Homo sapiens: one gene and its partners. The protein of the gene in region 4 interacts with the protein of the main gene of each other region in a pairwise test. Each region holds a gene or a part of one and is shown on either strand. Other genes may lie near its edges.

Region 1 (5,565 bases), on a different chromosome or scaffold from region 4:
TTTTCACATGACACCCACATGGCTCTTTTTCTGTTTCTTCCTCTTGGAGAGTGAGGGCTCTCGCTCTTGAAACCGTTTCTAGAAACTGTTCTGAGAAAACTTGTCTGATTCCTCCTAGACTCTCCGATGACCCTCAGGCTGGGTTAGGCACTTCTTCTCTGTGGCTCCAGGGGCACCCTGTGCTTGGCCTTTTCATAGCACTTTTCACATGTGCTGTGGGGTTGAGTGTATCTATTTCACAGTATTGTTGTGGGATAATATATGTAAAGTAATTGAGCTTGGTCTAGGGTTTTGTTATGGTGATTGTCTACTTGTCAGTCATGTCCATTGTAAGCTTTGAAGGAAGGGACTGTATCTTTGATACCTTGCACTGCACCCAGGACATGAATATTCAGTAAAATTCTGATGAAAGAATGAATGAATTGAATACAATGAATTAAAGAGAAGCAAAGGTAGAGGATGAGTATGCTTTTCTTGAACCATTTAAATCTATATAAATAATAAGCATACAATTCCTGATAATTTCAGTGAGAAAAATTCTTTATTTAAAATAGGCTAGATTTTTTATACTAGATTAAATAAAATACTCTATAAATGAGAATTTTAAATTAAATTATACCAAACCCAGTAATACCAGTCAGGAGTTTTCCACCAATCCCCATTTAATAAAGTTTAAATGAATTAGCTTAGAATTATGAGGATATTTGCCTTTGCTTAGAGAAAAAAGCAGTGCCATGTTTCCTGAATATAATAGTGTCATGCTGGTAAGAGAAATTCTATAATGCTTAAGACAGCTAAGAAAAAGTGATGATCAAATGCTGAGACCCTTAGAACCTTGCTCTGATGTTATTAATAGTGTTTCTAAATCACAGAGACAATTGACACATTTTATTTCAACAAGATATTGAAAGCAAGAAGGGGACCTACACTATTTCTAGCCACTTGCATTTATTAATATATGCTTAGCGCTTTTAATGCCTTTGCTGCAGAAGGGTAATAAGTGTTTTAGCAAAAAGGTACACTGTGGGGACAAAGCTGGGAAGCTTGTGCATACAGAAAGTAGCTAATATCTTAGAGCTGTCAGGGCTCTTGGAAATGCCATGCGTCATGCATCATCTCGGGCTCCTGGGCTTTGTTTCCTGGCATGGATGTTTGCAGAGAGTTTGGGGCCATCGTGGTATCCATGGTTGCTTCTTCCTGGAAATCCACGGATGTGGTCATGTCAGCATCGTAGGTCCTATAAACATCAGCTAATTCAGGGGTCATCAGTGGGTCAGCAGCTGCTGGGGTGACGCTGGGGAGTCCCTTCATCTTCCCTGAAGGGCTCCTTGGCAGGCCGGGAATGTCATCCTTAGGGAGAGCAAGGAGCCCTGCGTGGGGAGCAGGTTCTAGCTCTGTAAGGAAAGCTGGGTTTTCTAGATTGTCTGGGTTGGCCTCCGGCATAGGGGAGCCTTGTGCACCTCCTTCTTCGTTCTCAGGGCCTTTGGTGGCAGCCACTGGGGAGTCAAATTCCAGAGTGAAGTCACCGCCCATAGCTGGGTTGTGGGGCATTCCCTCAAAGCCGGGCCTCATGCCTCCAAATCCTGGAAACATGGCTCCATAGGCCATTGGGTCTTCTCTCCCGCCCTGGAAAAAAAAACATTCGTCAAAGATGCCATCATCACATGCTATTAACTATACCATGCAGCTATACCTGGTCACATTCACCAAGGATCTCTAAAAAACTGGTGGAGAATAGGAAGTTGGCTGATTGATAGCTTTGTGTAAGCTCATTTCTCACTAAACTGGCTTTGAAACATAATGAAGAGGATTCTGCACTTATCTGGGTGGATCTCGGCATGATTTCCGTAAAAGGGAGATAACAGGGCAGAAGCAAGACTTGAGGCAAAGGTGAGTTTGAATTTAATTTTAAGAAAACAAGCAGTTGAAATGAGTACTACCATCACAAAACAAATAAGAACTGAAATTCATAACTGCATTTGTTGAGCGAGAATCTTGTCAATGGCATTTTTCAGTGTCCCCCAAATGAAGTTCCATGTACTTTTTTTTTCTTTTAGGGGTCTCATTATACGGCCCAGGCTGCTGGTCTAGAACTCCTAGGCTCAAGTGATCTTCTTGCCTCAGCCTCCCTAGTAGCTGGGATCACAGGGGTGAGACACTGCACCCAGCTAAGACTTTAATTTTTTTAAAGCACAAAGTTTAAGAAAAAAAATGTGACTTCCCTGGAGTAACTAAAATATTTTCTTCTTGTGGACAAATAGAATACCAGCACTGACCATGTTTCTTTTTCTACCTTTGCTGCCAGAAATATGGGGTCCAAAATCTTAGGCTGTTTGTAGCAATTGAGCAGGCCTGTGTGACTTGCATATCTGTATTCTGATTTTCTTGAAATTATGACTCATTTTAAATCCTACTTTCAATTTTTTGTTATATTTATTGTGTGTTTTTCATAAGCTCTACAAAATCTTTTGGGAATGAGGCAGAATAGAAATAATTAATACTATGTGATGGCAATTAACACTTACTTGAATTTTGAACTTCCAGCCACTTGTATTGGTGCTATATAGATACAATACTCTTTCCTTCTCCTTTCTCCTGACTCTTCATTCTCTCTCAGCTTTCACATCATCTCCTCCAGGGATGATACTGTGAATCCCTGGACTGGGCTAACTGCCCTTCCTCTCTGACTCTTTCTCTCTAATAAAATTGTTATTACTTTTAGCCCATGATTTTGACATTAGGTATCTGCCCTTGTACCTATCTTTTCCATTCATTAGACTGTAAGTTCCTTGAAAACAAGACTTTTTTTTTTTTTTTTAAGGCAGGGTCTTGCTCTGTTGCCCAGGCTGGAGTGCAGTGGCGTGATCTCAGCTCGTTGAAACCTCTGCCTCCCAGTTTCGAGTGATTCTCCTGCCTCAGCCTCCTGAGTAGCTGCGACTACAGGCTCGCGCCACTAAACCTGGCTGATTTTTGTATTTTTAGTGGAGACGGGGTTTTACCATGTTGGCCAGGCTGGTCTCAAACTCCTGATCTCGGGTGATCCATCCGCTTCAGCCTCCCAAAGTGCTGGGATTATAGGCATGAGCCACTGCGCCCAGCCAAAAACGAAAATCTTACCTTGTCTTGTTTACAGTATTTTCCTATGTGTGTGGCACATGGAAGGCACACAAAAATACTGAGATGTAATTTTTCTTTCACAGATAATATGTGTGTGTGTTTGTTAACTTGACAGGATCTGTAGTTGACAGTGATTTGTTAATTCAATATAGCTTTTGTTTTGTCTTGCCTTGTGCTCTAACAGATGTAACAGGCAAAAATTTTCTTAGGGAAAAAGTCAAGTTGTATGACTTTATTGATCTCAAATCTTAAACTTGCATGGATAATGATAACATAATAAGAGTATATGCTCATTGACAATGCACATTGACATTTATAATAATCACATTTTAAACTTGGTTTTCTTTTGCTTTTTGATCTTTCAATTTTGAGATCTGAATTACTTGTAATGCTGTTGAATTTGATGTTTTGAGGGGTTAAATGGTCCCAGAAAGAACAAGAACTCTGTATGAACCACGTGTATCCTTTTGGTTTGAAGTGTTTATAGTTCAATGACGGCCTTTCAAGGGGAGTTTTCTCCTCTGTTCATCTACAAGCAATGGGGCAAAACTCTATGCTCAAGAATAGTCATCACCCAGAAATGAAAGATTACATAGGAAACATGATGAAATCTTTGGATATTGCTTCAGAATTAAGCTTAGTTTTTGGAGTGGAAAAATCTGAGTCCCATGCTCATTTGGCTACATTCATGGCAGACGTCTCTTGCAGCCAGTCATAAGTGACTGTTCTTCCCTGGCCACTATTTTAAGAAGAGTTAGAAGACATTACTCACTGCCACTTCTTCTGAACTCATGATGCCAAGTCTGGCAGGGGCATTCTGTTCAAAAAGAAATATTGCGTCAAATTACGAACCAGCTACCTTCTTATCTACTCAAGACAAAGTTAAAAGTTATTTAGTTTTCACTTAAACCTTAATATTAATGCTGTGTACAGAGGCAAAGTGGAGAGGTGAGTCATTATGGAATAAATGTAGTCAACTCGGATAATTCAGATCTAAAATTTGTTTTTTCTTTAATACCCTTGTGTGCGTGTGTGTGCGTGTGCGTGTGTGTGTGTGTGTGTCTGGCCAAGATTATCCAAATAGGAAGTTTGCCTCCTTAATATTTCAGTACTAATGTAGGTGTTCAGAGAATGTTTATTTGGAATCTCTTGTGTGAGACCTAGATTTTTGAATTTTAGCTCTTAAGATAAAATTTAATTAAAAACAATACTTTTTATAGAATATGGACTTACCAATTGATTTGCTCCAAAAGGCACGTACAACATTCCTGGATAAAGCTAAATAAAATACAATCATTATCACAAAATGCATTTTCCAATGGAAAAACTTTTAAGTAAATTGCAAACAGAGATGTGGTATTAAAAAAAACTTACTGGAGATTGTTTATTTTGTGGCATTGGTCCGTGAGAAATCAAACGGGCTATTTGGAAAATCTTTAAATGGTAGAAAACAGAATAAGTAATTCTCACAGGCACATCCCCATAACAGTAATTTTTGAGGTATATGAAACACATTTTCAGATGGATTAGTATAGAAAATAAGTATTTAATATTTAAGAGAACAAAGGAACCCATTATACTTCATATTCATGGATAAATGGGACAATGAAAAAATTCACTCTTATTTTTTGAAATATAGAGACAGTTTTTGCAAGACAGTGTCTCATTGAGATCTGTACTTACTGTTGAACCTTGTGGATCAGCAAAATCCAATCCTGGGAGCTATATTACAGATAAATATTAAAATTATCAGTCAAAAAAGGAACAAAATAGATAAATGCAAATAAAAGATAGACAAAGTGAACAAATAAAAATAAAAATAAAAAATAGAAGTGTCTCACTGAGATCTGTACTTACTGATGGACCTTGTGGATCAGGAAAATCCATTCCTGGGAGCTATATTGTAGATAAATATTAAAATTATCAGTAAAAAATGAACAAAGTAGTTAAATACAAATAAAAATAAAAAAGTGAACAAATAAAAATTAAAAAATAAAATACAGAAAGTGTCTCATTGAGATCTGTACTTACTGATGGACCTTGTGGATCAGCAAAATCTACTCCTGGGAGCTATATCACAGATAAATATTAAAATTATCAGTCAAAAAATAAACAAAATAGACAAAGTGACATTAAAAATAAAAAAATAGACAAAGTGAACTGATCACATCCTTATCTTGTTTACAATTACAATAAAACAATTAAAATGAGTTTCATTATTTTACTTTCTTTTAGTGTTTTGGGAGGTATGACCCAAGAGTTTGCAATGGTCTTTTACTAACATTACTCAAATGTACCTGCAGGGAGATGAGGCACATCTATCATGGCTTTGCTATCTCTTGCAGATTAGAAAGTAATGAATTTTGGAACTGGAACATACCTGGTTGGTTTGAACCCTGGCTCTGCCACTTAATTTTTGTGTACTCCTGGGCAAATTTTGTAACTTCT
Region 2 (7,032 bases), on a different chromosome or scaffold from region 4:
GAGTGTATTTGTATGGACAATTTTTATAGCAATATAAAAAGCATGTGATTTTACTTTCTAAGGACAACAAGCTAAGCAACCTAGGAAAATCAGTTTTGTTCTTCTATCTGGGCAGAGAAGTTTTACTATTTGCAAAGTGTTTGGGGGGAAATTTGAACCTAATCTTCATCTCCCAGCAGACTTCATTGTATTTTGGAAGATGCTTTTAATGGTATTGAGAAGTAAGCTCTGTAAGGAGGCGTGAGGAGTTAGTAGTTTTCCTGCTTTTAAGGGAAGCATCTTATTTGTGAGGAAACTAACGCACATATTATAAAGTGTTAAATGGTATAAACAGTATGTGGGGTTCAGAAAAGAAAACACAGAAACCTGAAAGATGGGTTTTAATTGGATGGAGGGGGAAAAGGGGAACGGAAGATAGAGTAACCATTTTTGTGGAGTGGAGTGTGAGCTCTGCCAGCCCGTGTGGCGAATGTGGTCGGATGATATTGAATCAGGTGCAGGGCCTTCACAGTTTTATAGGGGTTTAATGTAGAATTAACATGGAGAAGAACAAGGAGATATATCAAGAATGACTTTTGGATGTTATGATCCTAATCCTTTTCCTTCCTGTCTGGTATTTCCTGAACTGCATTCTCCTAATCTGAAATTGGGATGAATACTAGGAACTCAGTATTCATCATTTTCCACCAGGTCAAGGTTCTTAGCCAGTGGTCTTTGGGAGACTTCTATGGCATCTGTTAATACTTACAAAATTGTGTACAAATCTTGTTTGTGAGAATTTGGGGTACACGTTCCATAGCTCTTATGAGGTTATTTTAAGGGATCTGTGACCCAGGGAGTGTCAAGAATCATTATTCTAGGTTCTGTTCACCATAATTTAATTATATATTTCCCTATTTGAGCTATTGAGTGAACTATTGGTGCCTCTTATTCATAAGGTTAATCGAATGGAATTTTGTACTTAATTTTGCCCTTAGGCTTACAAATACCTTCGAGAAGAAGTCAAAACTTTTCAAGGAAAACCAATTAAGGTAAGCAAGACCATTGGTTATACTTTGTTTATTTGCAAATTGATGTTCTTAAGTATTCTAATAGAAACTTACATATTTTCAAACAGGCACGGATAAAAGCAAAGGCAATAGCTATAAACACATTTTTGCCAAAGAATGGATTTAGACCCCTGGACGTGAGCCTGTATGCCCAGCAGCGCTACGCGACGTCGTTCTACTTCCCTCCCATGTACAGCCCCCAGCAGCAGTTCCCCCTGTACAGCCTGATCACTCCCCAGACGTGGTCAGCAACGCACAGCTATCTTGACCCACCCTTGGTACGTCATTTCTTTACTAGGAATTTATGTTGTAGACACTATGCTAGATAATTTGAAGGATTAAAATCCTCATCTAATAGGAAGCCAGATATGTGTGCAGTCTGACATACTAAAACAGACCTTCAAGTTATGTGGGGGATTTTAAATGTAGCTGAGAACAGAGCTTATGCATAAAGAACTTTGGATTGCTGTGAGCACAATCCTTGCACAGCCCGTCTCCCCTCTTGTCATGCAGCTCTTAGCAAGACGCAGAGGGCGATAAGTGCTGTAGTGTACCTGGCGTCCCCTACACAGAGTACAATGCAAGGGGGATTAACTGAGGAGGAAGAGGTGTTTAATAGGCTTCTGACAGCAAGGCCAAGGAGAAGGCCTGCTGTTTTACCAGCCTTATTTTACTCACTTCTCACCAGCATTAGAGTTGGTCGACAGGATTAATTTTTATGGATTTTGGCCTTTGTTAAGGCCTATGGTTGGAATTCATAAGTCTGTACTGGATCTAGACATTGTCTCTTTGTGTGCTGCTATAGATGCTTGAAAGATCAAGTGCATTCTGGGTGGGAATTAGCATGAGTTTGGTGGCATTGGATGCACGAGAGTCAGCAATACACGGATGAGCATGTCCTTGAAGCTGAAGTCTAGTTGAGAAGTGAAGATGGGTTCATGGCCTAGAGGTTTGCATGAGGTAGCAATGCAGGTTAGTTGGAATTGGAGAGATTGAAGGGTAGCATACATAGAAGGTTATGGTCAGAAAGCAGAAATTGAGTTAGTAACTTTGAGAAGAGTTCATGTCCAGGGTTTCGCTGTGGACTAAGGGAAAGACTGAGTGGTCCTCAGGGTCGGATGGCTGGGAGCCAGGCACCCTGATGTGCAGGGATGTCACCGCTGACAGGCAGAAAAGGAGGGTAGGTGCAGAGCAGAGAGAACTTGAGAAAACAAGTGCCTGTATACACGGAAAGTAAAGATACGGGTCCATGAAACAACTCAGGCTGGAAAAGTCAAACATGCCAAGGAGACACGTGTACAGAATGCCAGAACACTGACAGGTCTTATCAGGGATTGTGTTGTCATCTAGGTTGAGCTTTTCAGGTTAAGTATGAGTTTTTCAGAAGGAATCAAAGAGAAGTTTCATGAACAGAAGATGGTCGTAGATTCATGGGTGTCTGAGCTGAAGCGTACACCGGGTGGCAGGGAGTTGGGGAACGAGCTGGCAGTTTCCAGGCCTAACTGCGCAGGTGCTTAGCTGTCCTGAGGCATGTGGGCTTTGGCCTAGTGCTTGTGGGAAGGTGTCTGAGGTTTCTAAGCGGAGAAATGAAACCATACTCCATTTAGAAAATAGCTCCTAAGGCCGTGTGAAGGGCAGGTGGGGACAGGGAGAGATTTTCAGAGGACCCCAATTCCCCCTGAGTCTGGAACCACCGCAGTGTAAGAACCTTTGGTAAAGTTACTTCTGTCTCTTTTGAGTAAGTCCTGATGGTAAGAAAAGTTTCTGGCTTTTTGAAGTAGCACATTCTATAAAAGTGTACCCATAGCTGAATACTTCGTTTTCCCAAAAGCATATCATGAGAGAACCTCAGAGAGACTTGAGTCCGTAGGCTCTGGGTGTTGAAGAATCATCGCTGCACGTGGCTTGCCATGCTAGTCCTTTCAGTTCTTCCTGCAGCAGTTGCTTCTTCCGTTTCTTTAATCATGGTTGACCCTCTCGGGGATCCTTGGGGTTCTGGGTCAGCTTATGGCCTTGACTTATGTTGTATGTTCAGGTTGCGGTGTGTGCCAGACAGCTGGTCCTGCTCTGAGTCTGTGATACTGGGGCTCTCCATCGCAGCCTTTTACTTGTGCTAAAACATGTGCGTCCTTTGTTCTGCAGCTGAAGAGATTGTGCCTATTAATCCCCAACAAGTAATAATAGGAACGCATTAATAATCAACTTTATTTTTTATATATGACCAATTTTATTTTTTATCTTGAGCAAAATTACTGGAATATCAGGGCTCTGTCTGTAAAATGACTTGCTGGAAATGATTAGTCCTCATTGCTCTGCCCATGATTTACAGCCTCAGATCCAGGTCTGCATTCATGGCTCTTCAAGTGTGATGTATTTTCTTTTTCTTTGAGACAGAGTCTCTCTCTGTCGCCCAGGCTGGAGTGCAGTGGCCGGATCTTGGCTCACTGCAAGCTCCGCCTCCCGGGTTCACGCCATTCTCCTGCCTCAGCCTCTTGAGTAGCTGGGACTACAGGCGCCCGCCACTACGCCCGGATAATTTTTTTGTATTTTTAGTAGAGACGGGGTTTCACCATGTTAGCCAGGATGGTCTTGATCTCCTGACCTTTTGATCCGCCCCCCCTTGGCCTCCCAAAGTGCTGGGGTTATAGGCATGAGCCACTGCGCCCGGCCATGTGTGATGTATTTTAAAAAGTCCGATTCTTACAGAGTGAAGAGTTTCTCAAGTAGCAAATTGAAGATTCTAACTTCCCTTTTGTATGATTTTATTTTAGTCCTAAGCTATAATATTCTTTTTCTGTTATATCTTCCAGTTAGCTCTAATTAAGGAGAATTACTTGCTTTTTTCCTTTCCTTTCTCTCTTCCTCCAAACAAGGAGGGCTCTATGCGTATCTCTGTCACTTTAGTGACATTGAGGGTGTGGACTGGAAGGCCCTCAGGAACTAAGTGCCCTGTGTCAGGAGCATAAGGAGCGAGATATCAGTGATGCAGAACGTATTGGAAACCATGGGTCCAGAAGCCAGAGAATTAGAATGAATGGTCTTGAGTTTTGTTTGTTTGTTTGTTTTTAAAGGAACTGTTTTAACAATAAGTTTTATCTTATTTTTGTATGTGTCTAGATTTTAAAAATAGTTGGCCGATACTTAAAATTCTATGCTCAATATTTTTAACTACTTAAGATCTTTTAGGGGTTCTGTGACCCTTTCTAATTTCTTCTGAATCTTATGTTAGTATATTTGCATGCCATACTTACCTTGTGACTTGGGGAATAATGATGATCTGAAAATACCCTGATCTGCAGAGCAGGACTTGTGTCGGGGTAAAGGTAAAGGCCCTGTCAGGCTGTGGTTGGATGAAGCCGAGTGAGCAGCAGTGGGTGTGCAGGTGCTCCTAAGATTGAGAATGTTGATGAGTTGTATTAAAGCCATCAGGAATCAAGAACTGTTGACTTCCTGCCAGTGATGGAGGTCGTATCAGACTGACATGCTAAAGGTTACAACACTTGTTGGAGCCCATGCGCTCTTGACCACGTCTTTCCTCTCAGTGCCTGCTTCCGCATGTGTCAGTTCTCCTCGCTGGATTGTTGTAAGGATTGGCTGAAAGGATGCACAAAAGCTCCAGCCTACTTCTAAACAGCACCCATTGGTGATAAAATTGTAAAATACATGTCTCAGCATGGGTCATGACTCTGACAACATCAAGAAATGCCCTCAGTTTCCACAGATTTGTTGGTATTAATGAAATTGAAGTCTGTTTTATGGTTTATTTACTTGTCTGTTTTCAAATGAATCTAGGTAACTCCATTTCCAAATACTGGATTTATAAATGGGTTTACGTCTCCAGCGTTCAAGCCTGCGGCGTCTCCTCTGACTTCTCTCAGACAGTATCCTCCTCGAAGCAGGCAAGTTCCGGGGCGGTCTTAGCAGTTTTGGTCTTTACGCTACTGCCCTTCCGGAGTTGGGATGAGAGAGCTTTGATCACTAGTCCTGCTCCTCGCAGACAGAGCCACCTGAAGCACACAGCTGCATTCTGTAAAGACTAAGCACTACAATCTGGCATGGGTGCCCGCCTCAGATTCTCTGAGAGGAGGCTTTGGGGCAACTTGTACACATCAGGTGTGCCTGATTTTAATTTGGGCCTGGACTGAAAAACAGCTAAGCAGAATTGTGGCACATTGTTAATAGATTTGCATTATCCTATATGTTAGGAGTTAACCATTCCAAATCCTATTTTTATACTTTATTAAACAGAGAGCAGATTTCAGCTTAGCTATTCCATGTCAGTATGCATGTTATGTAATGCCTTGATCATTTTATAACTCAACACATAAAACCATTTTTATTTACAGGAATCCTAGTAAATCTCATCTGCGGCATGCGATTCCTAGTGCAGAGAGGGGACCTGGGTTATTAGAAAGTCCTTCAATATTTAACTTCACTGCAGATCGATTAATTAATGGTGTCCGGAGTCCACAAACAAGGCAAGCAGGTCAAACTAGAACACGGATTCAAAACCCTTCAGCATATGCCAAGAGAGAGGCTGGGCCTGGGCGTGTGGAGCCAGGCAGTCTCGAATCCTCTCCTGGTTTAGGGAGGGGAAGGTGAGTTGTTGAGCAGTTACTGTGTAACATCATAAACTAATATTTTAAAAATTATTTAATTTAGATATGTTTTGTAATTGTCTTTAAATATGTCACAGAAAATCTAACTGAAGGCTATAAACATAAGGGTTTTATATAATTGCTAAGACTTAAATGGCTTCATCTTTTTTGGAATATGAAATGGTTCAGTGAGAACTGTAGTTGTTTTAGATCATTATTTGTAGAAACACTGGAGCTCAATAGCCATAGACTCCATCCCATGTGCCTGCAGTCTCCTCTTGGCAGCACCCCTGGCTCACCAGGCCCCTCTGCAAGGGCGGTGTCCAGGCTCTGCCCCATGGCTGCTGGCCTGGCGCCCTCCAGCTGGGTGTGCACCAGGCACTGCAGGTGGAGCCTGGAGCGGGTAACCAGGCAGATCAGCATTGCAGTCTCATCTCATTGGAGGGTTGAGACTAGCCAGGACGGGTCTTAGCTGTGCTTCCTGCCCACCATTTTTGGTTTTGTTTAACATTTTTTTGGCATCAATCCTGTAGTAGGTTTTTGTTTGTTTGTTTGTTTGTTTGTTTGTTTTTAAGACAGGGTCTCACTCCGTTGCCCAGGCTGGGGTACGTTGGCATGATCATGGCTCACTACAGCCTTGAACTTCTGGGTTCAAGCAATCCTATTGCCTCAGCATGCTGAGAAGCTAGGACTTCAAATGCACACCACCATGCCTGGCTAGTTTTTAAATATTTTGTAGAGACAGGATCTCGCTGTGTTGCCCAGGCTGGTCTTGAACTCCTGGCCTAGAGCCATCCTCCTGCCTCAGCCTTCCATAGTGGTGGGATTACAGGCATGAGCCACCGCACCTGCCCATTGTTGATAAGGCCAGTTGATCTTCTCAGTCCTTGCCTTGGTAAGGACCGTCAGGATTTTCCTCTCATAAGTGACAAACAAGTGACTCAAATACCTGAGCTTTTTCAGGGTGTTCTATATACAATGTGTACAGCACCATCCCTGACGTGCAAGCTCCTCTTCCTGCCTGCCACAGTGCACACCCTCTGTGCAGTGAGAATTCAACATGAAGAGGCATCAGAAGCATCTCATTCCTGCCCATAATGATTCAATGAGCACATAGGAGTTCCTGCAGGGATTGTGCAGTGGCATTGGAAGGCACCATGGTCTGGGAGAGCTGGCACTGGCCTGTGTCTCACAGGAAACATGGCATCAGGTTGGCTCAACAGGCCTTGGAGATGCAAAGCCAAAAGGGGCCCACCGTGTCATGGAGAGTCAGTGACTTCAGGGAGCAGTTGCTAGCCCTGGGTCTCAGTTTGGGGTTCTTAAGACCCAGACGCTTGGAGGGAGGAGGGTTGCAGAGCTGGGGCTCAGACTTGGGACAGAGCCCT
Region 3 (7,032 bases), on a different chromosome or scaffold from region 4:
TACTAGCATTATCTAAATGCTTTATATACACTAACTCACCTACTTTTCTTGATAGTCTTTTAAATTTATTTAGCTAGGTAGTCTAGGCGGGGAGAATTGCTTGAGCCCAGGAGTTCAAGACCAGCCTGGGTAATATAGTGAGACCATGTCTCTACAAAAAAATTTAAAACTTAGCTAGATGTGGTGATGCATGCCTGTAGTCCCAGCTACTTGGGAAGCTGAGGTGGGAGGATCACTTGAGCCGAGGAGGTTGAGGCTGTAGTGAACCATGATTATACCACAAGATCCTGTCTCAAAAAGAAAAAAAAAAAAAAAAGCTTTCTTTAATGCCTTACAGGATTTTTTGCAAGCCTCCACTTATTCTGAGTTTTCGATTTCTTGATACTATTCTTAAATTCCTGGTTAGATTCCTCTTGGTGATCTGTACTTCGGCTTTGTTCTTGTAAAATCAGAATTCAGTGAAGATGCCCTTATTTAGATATGTTGATTTCCTTATGTATTCTTTTTTTTACTTTTCACCAGAACCTCCTTCTTCAGTAACTCTTAATCTCTCTTGAATGTTCTTCTCACGAGCCATGGAATTCTAACTTGAAGTTTTACATTTTTGAGTTTTGATTTATTCAGGACTGGAGCACATGTCTCTTAACTGTGCTGTGTTTGGCTCATGCTCAGATCACATGGTTGCTTTCTGCCAAAGTTCCCATCACATCTACTTCATCACCCAGCAGTTTCTTGTCAGAATCAAGTCCAGATAAGCTGTTTCCATCACTATTTTTCCTAACTGTAGAGACATTCAACTGGCAGGAAACTAAGTCAAGAATTTATCAGGCACTCTATTTTTAGCAGTTGGAGCTTCCCAGCAGATGTTGGGATAGGTGGTATCTCACACTATGATTTTATTCTATCTATGCCAGTCTTGAAATTTGTATTATAGGAAAGTATACTTGTTAATAATGTATAGTCTATAGCAGTGGTTCTCAAACTTTAGCGTACATCAGAATCAACTGGAAGGTTGGTTGAAACAGATTGCTAGGCCCATTCCCATAGTTTATGGTTCAGTAGGTCTGGGGTAGAGCCTGACAGTTTTTATTTCTAACAAACCCCCAGTGGTGCCACTGCTGCTGATCCAGGGTCCATACTTTGAGAACCACTGGTCTACAGTGTCTTCTGTTTCTCCTTTTATCTTCATGCAAACAATTTAGACCAAGCTTGCTCTCTCAGGTACCATAAAGTGGCACTTTTCTTATATCAGGCTTATTTATTTTGAACAAGGTATATACTTCCTTGTCATATTACAGTCATGAATCTCAACCCTCTAATTTCAGTGATACTATTGAGATAGTATTTATCTTTCAGGAAAGACTGATGAAAGCTCCTGACAGTTTAGAAAAGAAAGAGAAAATAAAGTGAAACAGAGGGTTAGGACCCATATACTTGGATCTGTGAGCACTGGTCTCACACTATTTTGGTTATATATACTTGTCAATTTTGCCTATACATAACAGAGCTGTGTATTGTAATCTTCTTTATTCATTTAGTATGTATCTTAGTCCATTTTCTGCTGCTATAACAGAATACGCAGAGTGGGTAACTCATAAAAAACAGAAGTTTATTTGGCCCATGGTTCTGGAGGCTGGGAAGTCCAGAACACGGTGCTGGCATCTGGTGAGGCTCATTCTATGGCAGAAGGCAGAAGCGATCCCATGTGACAGAGGGAAGTGGGCTGAACTCATCCTTTTTATCAGAAACCTGCTCCCTCAATAACTAACTCATTCCCTCAGTAATGGCATCAATCCCTTCTTGAGGACAGAGCCTTCATGACCTAATCATCTCTTAAATGCCCACCTCTTAATACTGTTAGAACGGCAATTAAATCTCAACATGTGTTTTGAAGTTGACATTCAAACCACAGCAGTGTGTATAGACAATGTATCTGGTACACAGAAGGTATACTAAAAATTCAATAAATTGGGGAGTCTTAAGAGGCAGCACTGTATCCTGTAGGTGATGAGGAATAAATAAGTTAAATTGTTATCATTTTCAGGATTGATGCTATAAGCTCTTAAATTAGAGTGATAATAGAAATTAAAATTAAGTAGTATGCTGACTTGGCCTGTTCAAAAGTTCATGCTAGAGTGCTTATTGGTATTAGGAAACAGTGGGCACATATTATATTAAGCATATACTATGGCTGTGATTTGAGGGACACATTTTTCACTTAAGCCAAGTGCCCTGGTTAATTTCTGGAATGGTCTTTTTGTTTAGTTGTCTTATTCTGTAGAATAGCTGTGTCTGATGTGGAATATACTTTTAGTAAGACTGTAACAGGTTTTTGTATTTATTTGTTTGGACTCTTGGATGAACTCTGTTTATTAGTCACTAAAAATAACTTTAACAATTAATATTGCAGGTGGAACAAAATCCATTATTAGGGTTTGGCGCTATAGCTATTGCTGTATTGTGCTCAGGATTTGCAGGTAAATCATGAAAGCATTGTTTTATTCTTTTGTCATATTTTTCGAAAACATCAAACTTTAGACACCAGTCTAGTTTATCTTGCTTTCTCAGTTTTATTCCCATTAAACTTGATCTTCTTGCTTATATTTAGTTTTATGTCAGCTGTTTTTCCAGTAAATGTATAGCATTGTTCAACTAAGTTCAGACTCAGTCCCTATTCATACTTGCAGTTAACTACTTCTGTTATCCTTGACCATCTCAGTCCGGCCAAAAACCCAAAAGTAAATGAAAAAAGACTTCTGAAAATGGAGGAAATTAGTCTTCAGAAAGCCCTTTCCTTTTTTCTGGAACTGCCACTATCAAGTCAGATCCTGCTGCTTTAGGTTGTTAATGTTACCAGCTAAGTATCTTTTTTTCCCCTATAACCTCAAGTTCTTTCTCTGCTTTAACAGGTTAGGAGCTATGGAGTAGGATCATGAGGTGGGTCGAGAGTACCTTAGAAAACATAATACATAAAGCTAATAACCAAACAGGGAGGAAAGACAACACAAAATCACTAACATCAACAATCCACGGAAGTCTGGCGTTGTATGTGTAGGGACAAGCACTCCTCCAATGCATCAAGATAAGAAAGTATGAATATTAAGTGTAACATAAAAAAAGTTTTAGAAATAGTTCCAGCAGAGATTTAGTTTTTAATATATTCTGCTTAAAGCTTTTAGTAGAATATATTAGTTATAGCTATACATCTTTATTATTTATTTGTACCTATTTCAAGTCAGGACTATTTTTGACTAGGAAAGCAGGCTGAATACAGAAGTAAAATACTGCTTGTAAATAAGATGTTTTATACGAGGGGAAAATTTAAATTCAGGAATATACTTACTGATAGCATTGTGTTCTAGAAACCAACAAATTGGGAACAAAAATTGAGTTACCTAAAAAATATGCTATTTGATTTTTTGCAATATTTTGAACAGTTAAATGATTATGTCCAACATTTTATTAGTTCACTCTCTTAATACACAATTGAGGAAATGGAGGGTGGTTTAATATCTCTCTGTGTTTACGGTAACTGAGCACTGGATAAATGCTTCTCCCAGAAGGTAAAATCAGAGGTGAAAATAAGAATAGCTATTTTATGTTCCCATTCCAACAGACTCATCAAAAATAATCTTGTTTTTCGTTAGACTTTTTAGTTGATAAGTACTTCATTGGCAGTTCCTAAGTCTCTAGCATGATATTTATAACTAAAATCTTTAATGGCTTTGTAAAATATGCATTCATTTTAAGCATAAATCCAGAGATAGGGGACTTTTGTTGGGGAGGGGTATCATGTACTCCTTTGAAGTATCTGAAAAAATCTATGGACCTTCAACTCCAGAAAAATGCACATATACACAAAATTTATTATCCAGTTGGGGAGTTCATGATCCTTCTGACCTTGTGTATGAACTTGGCTTGTGGAACCCTGCTTTAAAGGAAAATGGCTTTACACAGCAAATTCTACTTCAGTTTTGGTTGTTACTCTGAAAAGATTCCTAGTGGTGATTATAGATTATATTGCAGAATTAGGAGTATTCATTAGTAGGCAGATATTACAGGGATGTGATTAAGATAATTCACTCTTAATGTAGTTTTTCAGCTGACCAAAGCAAATGACATACTGGCATTAAGTAGTACAGAGAGCTTTTGTGGTCTTACTGCTCTAATAAAGGCAGAAACTGTCTTAATTTAACAGCCTTCTGTTAAATGTAGCTTATAAACTTCCCAATTAGTTATTATTCTATATACTCTGTAAAAACATAAATTTATAATGTACAGTATGTCATGTGTCACACAACCTACATAATAAATGCACATTTAAGTAAAGTATGTTTTGTTCCCCAAATCATATACTTTATATATCTCTAGGGTATTGTTCTAAATGAAAGACATTTTAAGTTAATTTATAGTAATCTTTAATATTTGCATGTCTAATTTTCTTTCAGGAGTATATTTTGAAAAAGTTTTAAAGAGTTCAGATACTTCTCTTTGGGTGAGAAACATTCAAATGTATCTATCAGGGATTATTGTGACATTAGCTGGCGTCTACTTGTCAGATGGAGCTGAAATTAAAGAAAAAGGATTTTTCTATGGTTACACATATTATGTCTGGTTTGTCATCTGTAAGTATCCAGGAATTAAAGGTTCTTAGTAGATCCTTTATTTTTTTTTTAAGTTAGATGTCCATTTTAAGCTGTTATAACATTTTGAAATTAATCCTTTGATACTGTAAATACCAGTTTGAATATAATTTTCATTTTGTTGACTTAGTTTTGATTGTGAAGGCAAAATTGCTTTGGGATAGCAATGCCCCAAAATATCTAACATTAGCAAAAAATGTGTAAAATTTAATAGACCACATAGCCCTCTGGGCATTGTTTTGGAAAAACAGTGTTATATAGGAACTACCAATTTTAGTACAAACTCTCAGATGGCTCCTTCTAAGGAAAACAGTATTTTCCTTTTCCTAGGTAAAGTATGGCATCTCTGGGGATGAAAATTGCCTCACCATTATGTAATGTTTCATTTATTTGAGTGATAAGATTTTATTTCTCTCTGTATACAAGTTCTTGCAAGTGTTGGTGGCCTCTACACTTCTGTTGTGGTTAAGTACACAGACAACATCATGAAAGGCTTTTCTGCAGCAGCGGCCATTGTCCTTTCCACCATTGCTTCAGTAATGCTGTTTGGATTACAGATAAGTATGTCTTAGTTTGTGTTGAGTTTTTAACATGGAAGAGCCTCCCATTTCCTTGATTCATTTAATCCCTTATTTAAAAGTGGCAGTTGGTCATACTGTTTACAGAAATTCCTAGCTTTGTTACTACAGTTTATTCCACCAGTACAGCTGTTCATAGTTGTGTGGGATGTGGCTAAGCAGTACTTTGGTTGTTTAGGTGGTCTTAGAGGTTAAGACGAGGGGTGCTAGTTCTATGTGAAAGTGAGGGGACTTTTTTTGCAGTCAAGGCCTCCCTGTATTTTTAGGTATTGTATATAGGACAACTTGAGTGTCTGAATGTGAGAAGGTACTCAAGGAAATACATATAAAGACTTTAGGAAATTATTTTCAGCAGTCAGTTTAAACTATATTGGCTCATTATTTAGAAGAATGTAGAAAACATCTTTTAGTCCTCCCTCAGCTTGTACTTTCCAACTGCTTTGCATTTGGGTGTGAGACGGTTTTGAAAACAATCAAAATCTAGATTTTGTCTTTTGTATCTTTGTTTCATTCAATATGTAATTAATACAAAACTCATTAATATAGCTGGCATTCCAGTACCACTGCTTTGTTAGTCCTAATATAATTTTCCCAACTCTCACACCCAGCATTAATTTGGCTTCTAAATTATTTAAGCAATGATATTGACTTAACATTTCAGGGTGCTTTTATAGTGTAATAATTTTCTTTACTGATCAATTATTATAATATAAACCAATGTATGAAGAATATCTGTTAAATATATTAAGTAAAAGAGACCTGGCTTATATTTACATTTCATTTTAAAATTGACTCCTGTATATAAATGGAAATAGTGTTGTAGAAATTTTAGAAAACCATGTATAGTCTGTGGCAAATCTTGCCTGTACCATTTCTTAACTGTGCAGCCTTGGGGAAGTTATATTCCCTGGGTGACACTTTCTTCATCTGTAAAATGGGAATAATATCACCTATTGCCTAGTGGTGTTTTCAGGTGAAGTGCTTAGAGTAGTGTTTGACACTACTTACCAACCACTTACCATTTCAGTATCAGGTACTTATAGGCTTTCCCTTAGATGTTTTTCTACCTGATTTGGGTGAACTTTTAGCTGTAATTCTGATCTATCTTTATGTTCAACAAAATCCTTATACCATTGCTCATAAGAAATATATAGGAACAGTAGAAAATGCTTTTGTTTAATGTTCTTACTGATGGTCAACTAGCATGTCTTAGCAATCTTTCAGTTAACTGTTTAGATACAAGTTTTTATCCTACCTTCTCCTTTTTTGAAGGCAAAGCTGGTCTTTTTTAGTTAGGAGTGAACTAAAATAAAGCTTGATGTCATATAAATATATTTATTTGTCAAGTTAGGACAAGTTATGATTTGGTTTCTTGCATCCTGATTTTTAAGATTAAAATGAAAAAAGGTGCCGGGCATGGTGGCTCATGTCTGTAATCCCAGCACTTTGGGAGGCTGAGGCGGGTGATAACCTGAGGTTGGGGACCAGCCTGACCAACGTGGAGAAATCCTGTCTCTACTAAAAATACAAAATTGGCTGGGCACGGTGGCGCATGCTCCTCCCGGCTACTCGAGAGGCTGAGGAAGGAGAATTGCTTGGACCTGGGAGGCAGAGGTTGCGGTGAGCCGAGATTGCGCCATTGCACTCCAGCCTGGGCAACAAAAGCGAAACTCCGTCTCAAAAAAAAAAAAGATGAAAAAAGGGTTAAGACTAGTAGGAAATGTAGTTTTATTCAGTAAATTATCGCCTCATCTCCGATTAAGAAATTATCAATGGTTTGAATGATTGGTCACCTGTCTTTTACTCTAAAC
Region 4 (6,860 bases):
TCAGTTTTACTTTTCCCAAGTCCAGCTCTCCCAGTGTCTACCCTCTGGATCTCTGCCCCACAGGGTCAGGGTTTCCCCTCCATTAGGTTCCCCAAGCTGGGGCCAGGCCTTTGCCTGACTTGTCAGTCCTATCTTGCCTTTTCTACTTCCTCCCTGACAGCAGAGCCCACAATGAAGAACAGGGAGAACATATGGGCAACCTATCCACGCCTCTCAGGGACAGTGGACAAGCTAGACACCCAAGAAAAAGCTCCTGCTTTTTGATTTCTGACTCTAGCCATTTGGGATCTCCCTGCTTCCTTTTTTACCTACTCAGCTAGGGACAGCATTCTGGCATTCTTCCATCCTCACAAAATCCACAGGGGATAACAGCTGCCCAAAAATAATCCCTTCATGTATATGTAATGTAACTATTATGCTGGTTGATCCTCCTGACAAAGGTGGGACAAGTATTACTGCTATTTTACAGATGAAAAGACTGAGCTACTGCCTAAGATCACAAACAAGGCAGAGAGAAAGCCAAGCTAGAATGCAGGTATGGTGGCCCAGCTCCCATTTCCATCCTCATTTGCACTAACCAAATCACTCCCCTCCCCCAACCCAACCCCAGATCTAGCCTGATTTAAAAGTTACAAGGTCAGTTCCTCCATCCCCTGGACAAGTCACTTCCCAGGACCCACTGTCCTAACAGGCTAATGCGACATCATCTCAGGTTCCCTCTGCACTACTGTGGCTTGGTTCCCTGAAGACACCTCCAAGCTCAAAATGGTGTTATCATGACCTTCCAGTGCCAGTATATGATTATTTTAGGATTATCATAAATAATATAGGAAATTAGAGGGAGAAAAAAGAAAGGAAGCAGTGGCAAAGGATAGGGAGTAAGCAGCTCCAGGAAGCTTTTAAGCCTGACAAATACTGTCACAGACAAACACTGTTACAAATACAGTCACTCACACAGAAGAAACTTCTGGGCTTAGGGGAAAAATACTGGCACAGTACAAAGGTTGGAAAAACCTTTAGTACCAGAACCACATAACCAAAAATTGACTATGGGTGTCACTAGCAGTTCTAAAATACAGGCAGAAGTAAAATAGGCAAGGGGTAGGGAAAAAAGGGAAATTAAAGAAAAGGGAACTCAAAGAGTAGAAAAAAAGGAAGACATGGCCAGCCGCGGTGGCTCACACCTGTAATCCCAGCACGTTGGGAGGCCGAGGCGGGTGGATCACCTGAGAGCAGGAATTCAAGACCAGCCCGACCAACATGGTGAAACCCCATCTCTACTAAAAACAAAAAATTAGCCGGGCGTGATGGTGCATGCCTGTAATTCCAGCTACTCGGGAGGCTGAGGCAGGAGAATCGCTTAAACCCGGAAGGCGGAGGTTGCGGTGGGCCAAGATGGCACCATTGCACTCGAGCCTGGGCAACAAGCGAAACTCTAACTCAAAAAAAAAAAAAAAAAAAGAGGGAGACATGAATGAAGAAGCTAGTGGGAAAGTAAGTTTAAAGGTAAGTAAGACAGTAGATTCTGAAGCAGTATCCCAAACAGTTCTTGTGCTATAGGGTGCCTGAGATGCTGGATCAAAGAATGGAAAAAGGAAAAGCAAGTCAAGAGGGTTTGGTTCCATTCCCAGGTTCCACCCCTAACTCTATTGTCATTGAAGTCATTTCCCCTTTTGGACTTGTTTCCTTATCAGTAAAATAGAAAGAGGATGATATATGCCTCTGGTCCAATCTCTCCCAAGGGTTTATGTTGTGATAAGGTAGAAATGAGCAGTCAATCCATCTAAGGGCAGGGAATCTACATACACCAAACTGATTGTAATCATTCATTTAACACTTTCTAAAACAAGAACCTTGGGGGTGGGGGGAGACTCATGTAGAACACATACTGACACAACTACTCACACAACGACACGCACACTCAAGAATCAGATAAACACACAGGTACTGCCACAGGTTGACTAACGCACAAACCAACCGACTAAACGCTCAGCCCCACACAAACACATCTAGAGACAGAGGCATGCCCTAGCAAGTGAGCCTCATTGTTCCTCAGGAAAGGGAGTTTACAAAGGAAACAAAAACTCTCATACACAGCCAGAGGGAGGGCAGAGCTCTGGCTCTGATGAGAATCCAGCCAACCAACAGATACACTCTCCCCCTGGGAAGAGTCACTCAATCAACAACACGTATTAAGGACTCCTGAGGTAGTTATTCCATAAAGGAACTTCGCTGGAACCTCTGCTGCGCTTAGAGAAATTTCAGGTTTCTATTGCATTTCCTCTTTAGACTGTGCACCCAGACATTTTCCCAGAGCAACCGCCGCAATTCAAAGATTCAGAAGAGCCAGAGACTCCTTCAGCAAAAGCTAGGGGAAGAGACTTCCACCCCAGACCACCTCCATTTGATTTTCTTCGAAGACCGTTAAAGGAGCCAAGGCTCCCGGCTGCGCAGCGGGGTTCGTGGATGCTGGGTGGCCGTTGGAGGGGCAGGCTGGCCCTTCCCAGGTGCGTGTGGAGCGCGCGCTGGGTAGATGAGTGTGGAAGGGTCCTTGGCCCGACGGCCCTCTCCAGTGAGGACGAGGAGTGTACCTCTGGTGTGTGCAGATGGGTCAGCTCCCTCCTGGTGGCCGTGAGGGGTGCGGTCACAACTCACCAGTGTGGGGGAGGGGAGCCAGCCACTCACCCAGCTGTGAGAGTGGTGAAAGAGGGACCAGCCAGGGGTGGAAAAGATAATTCGCAGAACGATATAGGAAGGTTTCTGAGCTCCTCCCCTCCCGCGGGCTAGGGGCGTGGGGAGAGCCTTCCTCCAACCTCTGACCCGACCAACCGATTCCTCCCGAAACTCTGGGAACTTACACAACAGGATCGCCAATATGAAGAGGCACAACAGTTTCCTCTCGACTTGCGCCTTTGTCCCCATCGCGATCAGGCTCCCGACACAACAGCCGCCGAAGGACTCCTGGGAACAGACACAGCTCCGCGACTACAGCGAGGGGACTGAGAGCCAGCCGCCAGGTGGAACCCCGCCCGGCCCCGCCCTCCGCGCCTGATTGGCCAGCTCCCCACCCCTGCACGTTCCGATTGGTGTAAGGAACCGCTGCTCTTCAGAACGAGTCACCTCGGCCAGGTGTTACCCCGCCGCCACTCCCCGCCTCGGCGCACTGGCGCCTTTCCCCACAGGAGCTGCCTCAGATTGGCCCAGGAGACTGTCGCGTCAGGAGACGAATTCCGCACCTTCAGCAGGTGACGGCCCCCTGATTGGTTGGTGTTCCCGAAGTAGCGACTTCCTGACTGGCTGGGTTCTCAGTTGGAGCTAGAGGGCTGAGAAGTACCTCTAAGGAGGAAGTAGGAAAGGCAGTCGTGGTGTGGGATTTACGGAGACCGGCTTGGCTTGGGGTTTTGTGTTTGTTTGAATGTAAGTTGCTTGGTGCAACTGCACCTGCAGTTTGGTCCTGCAGAAACTTTGGTCCTGCCTCTTGGCAAGTAAAAAACAAATATTAATATGGGAGGGTAGGGGAGAAGACCCGGAGAGAAATGGAATGTTACTTTGGCACCACCTCCAAACTGTTCCTCTGTCCACCCCACCGGCTTTGAGAGATGAGCTACGCTGGGAGGAAGAAAGGGGAAAAAAAAGGGAAAGGGAGCACTCAACTGGAAAATGGGAGCCTGGGCAGTATAGTCCCAGCTACTTGGGAGGCTGAGGTGGGAGGATGGCTTGAGCCCGGAGGCGGAGGTTGCAGTGAGCCTAGATCGCGCCACTGAACTACAGCCTGGGCGACAGAGCCAGACCCTGTCTCAAAAAACAAACAACAACAACAAAAATTTAAAAACCCACAACAACACAACTTGGGAAGAGCAGAATTACGTTATCTCAAGAAGAAAGTTAAACAGATGTACACAAAACACACCCAGATGATACAAACTGAGCTGAACATGCTCTAGAAACATCTCTGGGTGACTGGATATGTCCTTTACACATATTTGATCTGTGAACAGGTCCCTACATTTCAGAATTGTTTGTTTTCTCACTGTGACTAATAGTTGTGTGCTGACTAAGCCACCTTTTTTCTATAGACAATGTTGATACTCAAACTTTCTGTTAATATTTATATTGCTACATCATTTTTAATTGAAATTCATGCTCAACACCTTTGCTAGTTGTAGTTTCTATTTTACGATGATTTAATTTTAACTGTACTAAGCATATGCAGACTGTGGGGAAAAAACTTCCTTAGCATTACCTCATTGCAAGGGAAAAGACCACATTTTTATCCAAAAGAATGATATTGTTTGACATTTTGCCTTTTTCACCTTTGCTCTCATTCCTTTGTCCCCATCTCTTTGGCCAAAGTTCTGCTTCTGGTTCCATTCAATTTAAACCACCTACTGGGTGCTTAATAGTCTTGGCCGGGTGCGTGGCACACGCCTATAATCCCAGCACTTTGGGAGGCCGAGGTGGGTGGATCACCTGAGGTCAGTCTGACTAACGTGGTGAAACCCTGTCTCTACTAAATACAAAAAAAATTAGCCGGGCGTGGTGGCACATGCCTGTAATCTGAGCTACTTGGGAGGCTGAGACAGGAAAATCGCTTGTACCTGGGAGGAGGAGGTTGCAGTGAGCTGAAATCGCGCCATTGCACTCCAGCCTGCTGGGCATCAAGAGCGAAACTCCGTCTCAAAAAAAAAAGAAAAGAAAAGAAAGAAATTTAAAGTCTTGGAGAAAGGTATATACACTGACAGCTGGGCTCTGTGACGTGTGCCTGTAATCCCAGCTACTCAGGAGGCTGAGGCAGGAGGGGAGGATCACTTAAGGCCAGGAGTTTGAAACCAACCAGGGCAACATAGGGAAAAGACTCTGTGTCTAAGAAATTTTATTTATTTATTTATTTTTGAGACGGAGTCTTGCTCTGTCGCCCAGGCTGTAGTGCAGTGGCGCGATCTCTGCTCACTGCAAGCTCCGCCTCCCGGGTTCACGCCATTCTCCTGCCTCAGCCTCCGGAGTAGCTGGGACTACAGGCGCCCGCCACCATGCCTGGCTAATTTTTTTTTGTATTTTTAGTAAGACGGGATTTCACCGTGTTAGCCAGGATGGTCTCAATCTCCTGACCTTGTGATCCGCCCGCCTCGGCCTCCCAAAGTGCTGGGATTACAGGCGTGAGCCACCGCGCCCAGCCTATTTATTTATTTTTATTTTTATTTATTTATTTGTTTTTTGAGACGGAGTTTCACTCTTGTTGCCCAGGCTGGAGTGCAATGGCGCGATCTCGGCTCACCGCAACCTCCGCCTCCCGAGTTCAAGCGATTCTCCTGCCTCAGCCTCCCTAGTAGCTGGGATTACAGGCATGTGCCACCACGCCTGCTAATTTTGTATTTTTAGTAGAGACGGGGTTTCTCCATATTGGTCAGGCTGGTCTCAAACTCCCGACCTCAGGTGATCCGCCCACCTCGGCCTCCCAAAGTGCTGGGGTTACAGGCATGAGCCACCGTGCCCGGCCTTTATTTATTTATTTTATTTTTGAAACAGGGTCTTGCTCTGTTGCCCAGGCTAGAGTGCAGTGGTGCAATCATGGCTCACTGCAACCTCCACCTCCTGGGCTCAAGCAATCCTCCCACCTCAGTCTCCTGAGTAGATGGGACCACAGGCGTTGCCACATCCTGCTAATTTTTTCTTTCTTTCTTTCTTTTCCTTCCTTCCTTTCTTCCTTCCTTCCTCTCTCTCTCTCTTTTCTTTGTTTTTGTTGTTTTGTTCTGTATACACGATGTCTTGCTATGTAGCCCAGGCTAGTCTTGAACTCCTGAGCTCAAGTGATCCTCCCACCTCAGCCTTCCAAAGTGCTGGGATTATAGGCGTGAACCACCATGCCCCGCCAGAAAATTAAATTTAAAATTTTTTTTAATAAAAAATTAGCTGGGTATGGTGGTGTAACCTGTAATCCTGTACTCCGGAGGCTGAGACAAGAGAATCACTTGTGCCCAGGAATTCGAACCTGCAGTAAGCTATGATTGCACCACTGCACTCCTGCCTGGGCAAAGGAACAAGAAAGATCCTGCCTCTTAAAAATATAAAAATAAATAAAAATAAATTTAAAAAGCATGCATTCACAAATATAATAATAGCCATGTTACACTATTGAGTTATATTCAATTTACAGCATACTAAAATGGGTAAGCCCTTTATTTTCACTTGAACTACTGTTAAATTGGGTCTCCCACATCCTATACTTATGCATTTTTTTTTTCAGATGGAGTATTGCTCTTGTTGCCCAGGCTGGAGTGCAATGGCGCGATCTTGGCTCACTGCAACCTCCGCCTCCCAGGTTCAACCGATTCTCTTGCCTCAGCCTCCCAAGTAGCTGGGATTATAGGCCACCACGCCTGGCTAATTTTGTATTTTTAGTACGCGGGGTTTTTCCATGTTGGTCAGGCTGGTCTCGAACTCCCGACCTCAGGTGATCCGCCCAACTCGGCCTCCCAAAGTGTTGGGATTACAGGTGTAAGCCACTGCGCCCAGCCGCATTTCTTTCTTAACCAAAGTACATTTTGCATTGATCTCTATTCAATTTTATATTTTCTGTTTTGAAAATATTAATAATGGACAAGTATACATGAAATATTGTTAATAACTAAAATGAAAAAAGTAAATACAAACAGTGTGCACCTCAGTTATTACTATATAAAACATCTGCATATACAGTTACAAAGCATGAAGGTATTTTAGAGCATGCAAGTAATTTGATGTTCATCAGATTCTTTTTCCCATAAAGTTGCTTAAATGTATAATAAATGTTAAAATTTCATTGTCATTGACATTTGTTTTCCATAGTCCTTCAAAACAGATTTGTAAACTACAGACTGATT

What was found.
Region 1: the proteins of F11R (region 4) and AMBN interact in binary tests that used the Homo sapiens proteins (3 or more experiments, as listed by UniProt).
Region 2: the proteins of F11R (region 4) and LARP4B interact in binary tests that used the Homo sapiens proteins (3 or more experiments, as listed by UniProt).
Region 3: the proteins of F11R (region 4) and SLC35A1 interact in binary tests that used the Homo sapiens proteins (3 or more experiments, as listed by UniProt).

Annotation. Positions count from the first base shown.
Region 1 is NC_000004.12:70,602,246-70,607,810, reverse strand, and holds the end of AMBN (ameloblastin precursor), read right to left. Parts: intron 5,188-5,565; coding exon 5,149-5,187; intron 5,014-5,148; coding exon 4,975-5,013; intron 4,840-4,974; coding exon 4,801-4,839; intron 4,552-4,800; coding exon 4,492-4,551; intron 4,396-4,491; coding exon 4,351-4,395; intron 3,935-4,350; coding exon 3,890-3,934; intron 1,627-3,889; coding exon 1,081-1,626; 3' UTR 523-1,080; downstream 1-522. UniProt on the Homo sapiens protein: Involved in the mineralization and structural organization of enamel.
Region 2 is NC_000010.11:823,680-830,711, reverse strand, and holds part of LARP4B (la-related protein 4B), read left to right. Parts: intron 1-977; coding exon 978-1,031; intron 1,032-1,117; coding exon 1,118-1,327; intron 1,328-4,841; coding exon 4,842-4,948; intron 4,949-5,395; coding exon 5,396-5,647; intron 5,648-7,032. UniProt on the Homo sapiens protein: Stimulates mRNA translation.
Region 3 is NC_000006.12:87,503,972-87,511,003, forward strand, and holds part of SLC35A1 (CMP-sialic acid transporter), read left to right. Parts: intron 1-2,410; coding exon 2,411-2,477; intron 2,478-4,448; coding exon 4,449-4,625; intron 4,626-5,069; coding exon 5,070-5,204; intron 5,205-7,032. UniProt on the Homo sapiens protein: Transports CMP-sialic acid from the cytosol into the Golgi apparatus, functioning as an antiporter that exchanges CMP-sialic acid for CMP. Binds both CMP-sialic acid and free CMP, but has higher affinity for free CMP.
Region 4 is NC_000001.11:161,018,152-161,025,011, forward strand, and holds the start of F11R (junctional adhesion molecule A isoform 1 precursor), read right to left. Parts: upstream 3,002-6,860; 5' UTR 2,923-3,001; coding exon 2,859-2,922; intron 1-2,858. UniProt on the Homo sapiens protein: Seems to play a role in epithelial tight junction formation. Appears early in primordial forms of cell junctions and recruits PARD3.